Linked DNA regions of Homo sapiens: region 1 is linked to region 2. Evidence: fine-mapped expression QTL. A gene starts in region 2. The other region holds a variant in brackets. All regions are shown on one strand. Distances are from middle to middle.

The links.
Region 1: its variant is fine-mapped to the expression of BLTP2 in whole blood (TOPMed, PIP above 0.99).

The regions. Positions count from the first base shown.
Region 1 is chr17:28,576,581-28,579,481 of GRCh38, reverse strand. It overlaps ALDOC (aldolase, fructose-bisphosphate C), which reads left to right and starts at 2,587. Exons shown (of 9, transcript NM_005165.3): 1 at 2,587-2,681. SPAG5 (sperm associated antigen 5) reads left to right here. Exons shown (of 24, transcript NM_006461.4): 18 at 1-117; 19 at 230-341; 20 at 730-810; 21 at 954-1,109; 22 at 1,190-1,264; 23 at 1,392-1,472; 24 at 1,712-1,908. The coding sequence ends at 1,783. RefSeq lists an enhancer at 2,185-2,364 and a silencer at 2,415-2,654. The variant C/A (reference allele first, on the strand shown) is at 1,163.
Region 2 is chr17:28,643,819-28,646,719 of GRCh38, reverse strand. It overlaps BLTP2 (bridge-like lipid transfer protein family member 2), which reads left to right and starts at 1,562. Exons shown (of 39, transcript NM_014680.5): 1 at 1,562-1,731; 2 at 2,533-2,662. The coding sequence starts at 1,664. RefSeq lists silencers at 1,176-1,405, 1,426-1,765.

The DNA of each region.
Region 1 (2,901 bases), 67 kb after region 2:
CCCAGGCATGGAGGAGAGCCTGGCAGAAATGAGTATTATGACTACTGAGCTTCAGAGTCTTTGTTCCCTGCTACAAGAGTCTAAAGAAGAAGCCATCAGGACTCTGCAGCGAAAAATGTGAGTGGGATGCAGTTTTGGTGACAGAGGGACAGTGAGACATCCTCTTATGCCAAGGGTCCAACTGATCCCTGAGAGGACAGGAATGTTGCTAAATTCTTCCTTCCTTCAGTTGTGAGCTGCAAGCTAGGCTGCAGGCCCAGGAAGAACAGCATCAGGAAGTCCAGAAGGCAAAAGAAGCAGACATAGAGAAGCTGAACCAGGCCTTGTGCTTGCGCTACAAGGTGAAGGAGGGACCTAGAAGTGGGGCGATGAAGAACTGGGGCAGCTCTACTGGCCCACTGGGAGCCATTATCTCTCCAGGAATCTGGGTGGTGGGGATTTTCCAACCACTGCCCTAGTTTTGCCCTTCCTGGGGTCAGACATTTCACATGTCAGCTATGGGCTGACCTGTCTTCCCAGGCTGACTCAGGAGAGAAGTCAGGAACTCTAGCAGAGCTCTCCCAACACTGAAATGTGCCTTGCCTGGCTTGGCCCTGGGGAAAGAATTGGCGTGATATCAATTGGTCCCATGTGGGCTAAGCATGGGTCAGGCACTCTCTCCTACCTCCTGGCAAGGGCTGTGAAGAGACCAGCTCTTCATGTGTCTTCTCACCTCCCTTTCCCTCACAGAATGAAAAGGAGCTCCAGGAAGTGATACAGCAGCAGAATGAGAAGATCCTAGAACAGATAGACAAGAGTGGCGAGCTCATAGTATGTTCACCATCATGCCCAGGCCTTTGCCTTCTGTGTTACTGGTCAGCCAGGATCCCAAGTATGAGAAATGGTTTGCTTTTGTTCACCACATGTTGTCTATCCTTATGTCCTATTGGACACCTCTCCATTCTCATTCCCAGAGCCTTAGAGAGGAGGTGACCCACCTTACCCGCTCACTTCGGCGTGCGGAGACAGAGACCAAAGTGCTCCAGGAGGCCCTGGCAGGCCAGCTGGACTCCAACTGCCAGCCTATGGCCACCAATTGGATCCAGGAGAAAGTGTGGCTCTCTCAGGAGGTGACTCAGAGTTAACAGAGGAGCTGGACAGCAGGTGGGGACCCCAGGCTGTA[C/A]CCCTGTTGATCTGGACATATTTCTAGGTGGACAAACTGAGAGTGATGTTCCTGGAGATGAAAAATGAGAAGGAAAAACTCATGATCAAGTTCCAGAGCCATGTAAGAATGTCCATGCCATTCCAGGGCCATTTCCTACCATCGTTAACAAATGCCCCGCCATGTTTCCCCTGTCCTACCAAGTTTGCTCTTTTATGCATAGGACTTATAAAATCTGTTTGCTTTCTAGAGAAATATCCTAGAGGAGAACCTTCGGCGCTCTGACAAGGAGTTAGAAAAACTAGATGACATTGTTCAGCATATTTATAAGGTATAGGCAGGAGGGAGGTGATATCACTAATGAACCTGGTACAAGGCCTGGCCCCAGGAGGTACTAATGAGCACAGATCTGGTTCCCAGCCTGTGCTGAGAGCTGGGCCTGAATCACTATTGCAGGCTTCTCTGTGGTGTCTGTTTTCTCCCCTCTAATTCAGCGGCTGCCTCCTGGGGCTGGGAGCCCTGGGCCTTAAGTCTGTGGTCCTGAGCTGCGTTTTCTGCCTCTCTTCCCAGACCCTGCTCTCTATTCCAGAGGTGGTGAGGGGATGCAAAGAACTACAGGGATTGCTGGAATTTCTGAGCTAAGAAACTGAAAGCCAGAATCTGCTTCACCTCTTTTTACCTGCAATACCCCCTTACCCCAATACCAAGACCAACTGGCATAGAGCCAACTGAGATAAATGCTATTTAAATAAAGTGTATTTAATGAATTTCTCCAAGCTTACGGAATCTTACTTTTTGGGTGAGAGGGGGCGGATGATGAAGTCAGGGAAGAAGCAGCTTGGGCCTCCTGCCTGGGCACCCTCCATAGATCCCTCTCCACCTCCTGCTGCATCCAAAGCCAAGGCTGCCTGCCCTTCCTCCCTTCCTCTGCTTTCACCAAAACTCTGGGCACTGGACTGCTTGTTCCCTGGCTCACCGCCTGGAGGAAACAGAAAGGCTTCATTCTCTTACTTTCCCCAGCCCCCTCGGGGGTATACCCTGGCAAATATGGGGGTGAGGACAGAGAAGCTCAGTTCATTACTTCCTGCCCTGAACTTGGGCACCTTGAAGATGCTTCTGCCCCACCTACTCAACCTGTTGTTACTGTTCTGGTGCCTCCTCTTCACCAGACTAAGCTTAATCCCCAGCATCCAGCAAGTGCCCGGCACGTGGTAAAGGGATTGTGGCAGAAATGAACGCAAGGTCATGGCCAGGCTCCCCGAGGTGGGAGGGCAGTCCCTAACAGCCACGGATGCCTGGCGGGGCGCTCACTCCACCTCGCCGCCCCGCCTCTGAGGGCGTGGTCTTGCCCCGGACACCAGTCCTGGGGAGGGGGTGTGGTCAGGGCGGGGCATGCAGGCCACGCCCCCGGAGGAGTCACGTAGCTCTGCGACATCCGCAGCCTCATTTACCAGAGGGAGCCAGGGCTGCAGCCTCATCTGTTTGCGGATCAGAACCCGAGCTGTGCTTGTGGCTGCGGCTGCTAACTGGCTGCGCACAGGTAAGGCCAGGCAAGGCGGGAGCCACTCAACATCTCCGCTTCATTTCCTTGGCTCTTCCCCTGCCATCCTCGTCCTGCTACCTGGGACTCCGGGATGTGCCCTTTCGACCCTTTCCTAACATCTTTGCTCCTTTCCGCGTACTTGAAACCCCATGGCTCAACCTCTTCTGTTCTATCCCTCTTCAGCTCTCCCAGCTGGACCTCAGCTTTTCCAATCCCA
Region 2 (2,901 bases):
CATAAAATCAACATTTTAGGCTATGAGATGGCTGGGAGTAGGGCCGGTAATAGTCAAGGGAGAAGGAAGGAAGTGACAGGAATCTTGGTTCAATAAACAGATTGGATAAGATGAACCAGAGTAGGGATACGTGTTGCACGGCACCCCTCCTTGACTTGGACAGAGGTTTTCAGTGAATTGGGCCTTCCCAGAGCATTCGGAGGACATACCCTGGGGGAAGGCTGCAGATGACGAGGAAGATGACGCAAATACAGTGCTTGAGAGGTAAGTATGACCTTGAAACAGCAGCGCTGGAGCTCTTGGGGAGATGTGAAATCACTGAAGAGAGGAATAGATAAGGGAGGAAACAATCAGAGGAGTGAAAGCAACTTCGGGCAACACACAGGTGAAAGATGAAATGGTGTTTTATCTGAGGGAGCCAAAAAGAGAGGCTCTGAGTAAAATCTTGAAGGATATATATGGAGATTAGGACGTGGGAGCGAAGGGGTATGAAAAGAGACATGACCTCCTCCATAATACTTATTTTGAAACCGTCAGGATTTCCTTAGCTTGTGCTGTATCAGTAGATCATCATTCAGATACTGATCCTTAGCACAGTAACGCTGAGGGACCTTTGTCCTGTTCTCTCATTTTACAGAGAAGGAAGCAGGCAAAACTATGTATTGTCTATTTTATGTAATTATGTTTGCTTCCCAGATAAACTACACAGAAGGAAGCAGGCAAAACTGACTATGTATTGTCTACTTTATGTAATTATGTTTGCTTCCCAGATAAACTATTTTTTGCTAAAGGGCAAGAACAATATTCACTACTTCTGCAGTATCTCCTCCTCTCCTCCATCAGGGCCCAGTTCGTGCCATAAGTAGATGGACCAGAACAGTGTTCAAACAGTAAATGAAGTAAAAACTCATTGGCCAGGAACCGTGACACGCGTCTTTAGTCCAAGCTACTCAGGAGGCTGAGGCAGGAGGATCCCTTGAGCCTGCAGGAGTTCGAGACCAGACTGGGCAACGTAGCGAGTCCTTGTCTCAAAGAAAAAAAAAACAAAACCTCATTAGTTTCCTCTGTGGATGGAATGAGGCGAGATTTTTGAGGCCTTTTAATTACCTCCTAGTTTCTGCCTCAGTAATTTTCAAACAGGATCTTGAATAAGATGGGAGTGCTACCACGTCTGACCAGGGGTGTAACTTCCGCAGAACCCTGAGTCCAGGCCTAAGTGGCTAGGCGGACTCCAACTCCCCTCAAAGTGAGCTCCCCGGACCGAAATGAGTCAGCCAGGTCCACCGCCAGCCCAGGTAGTGGGCCCGGACTCCGACCCCCGCGGGTCCCCGAGCCCCGCGGTTCCGGGCACCGTGGTGTGCGCCCGGGGCGTGTTTCAGCTCTTGGTCCGCTCCCCCTCGCCCTCCTCCCGGAACCACGCCCGCTCCTCGCGCACGCAGCCCGTCGGCCCTGCAGCGTCGTAGGACAGGGCGGGACTGGGGTGGGAGGCCGTTGGTTGGCTGGCGGGCTGCGGAAGGCGGGGCTCGTGTGCGCACCAGCGCGTCCTCGCTCAGCGTTGCTCCTGCGCGCGCAGCTGGTCGGCCCGCGGCGGTGCTGCGCGGATCCGGCGTCGGGGCCCGGCATGGCGGGGGCCGGGGCCAAGCCGGGCCGGACCCGGACCTAAATGCCTCTGTTCTTCTCCGCGCTGTTGGTCTTGCTGCTAGTTGCGCTTAGCGCCCTCTTTCTAGGCCGGTGAGGGTTCCCGGCCGCGCCGGCGGCGGCGGCGGCGGCGGGAGGGAGGGGGCGGAGAGGAGGAAGAAAGACTGAGGAGGGGGCGCGCGCCTTACTGAGGCGCGTGAGGCAGAGTGGGTAGGGTGGAGGGAGGGGGCGCGCGGCGAGGGGAGGGATCGTGAGGAGGCGCGTGGCCCGAGCTCCCAGGGATGGGCTGCGAGTTGGGGAGACTGAGGAAGCGGGCGGGGTCTGAGGAAATGCTGAGGCCAGGAACTGAATAGGAGTGTGAGGAAGGGGCCTGGTTCAGTGGCTTCCCTTTCCCCCTCCACCCACCCCTGCATGTCCCTTTCGCCAAGCGCGATGGGCACCTGCAGCATCGGTCTGGGGAGAACAGCATTCGAGCTGCCGGGTCTGACCTCAAAGTGCCTTCTCGTGGATACCTGTCTGGAGGGTGGGAGCAGGAGACAGACAGACCCTCTGGGGAGTGTGATGGCACATGTGACAGAGCCGCCTCCGCTTTGACTCTTGCTGGGGTCTTCTCTCTCTGCCTCTGGGATTCATAACAATTTGAGGGATTTTGTTTTTGTCTTCAACTTAGAGGGTGCAGTTTCTGGTTTCATCTGGGTGGAGGGGTCAGTCGGGAGCTAGGATCTTGATCAGCGTGGCTGAATGTATATGACAGAGTGGTGCTTTGGAAGAAAGGAGAGTTGCTCAGATCCAGTTTCAGGAACGACCTTTTGCAAGGCTTTGAAAGACCAGCAAGGGGTGAGGGAAACCATCATTGGAAAAAGGTCCTATGAATTAACAGGAATTTTTCTGCAGGTGGCTTGTGGTCCGGTTGGCCACCAAGTGGTGTCAGCGGAAGCTGCAGGCGGAGCTAAAGATTGGCTCCTTCCGCTTTTTTTGGATCCAGAATGTCAGTCTTAAGTTTCAGCAACACCAGCAAACAGTGGTGAGTTCTGGGAAACTCTGGATATGTGTGTAGGGTTGATCCAATTGAATTTAAACTCTTAATTTCCTTTTTTTAAAAATAGAAATCCTGGTGGCTTTTCTAGTTAATCCCAGCCTTGCCATTTCTTTGCCAAGATGATCTTAGAGCTAGTTGGAGAACGCTGCAAGTTGTTCAGTTAAAAATGTTTGTAGGACACAGAGTGTCCAGGGCACATAACAAAGATACAGAAGAAAGATAAC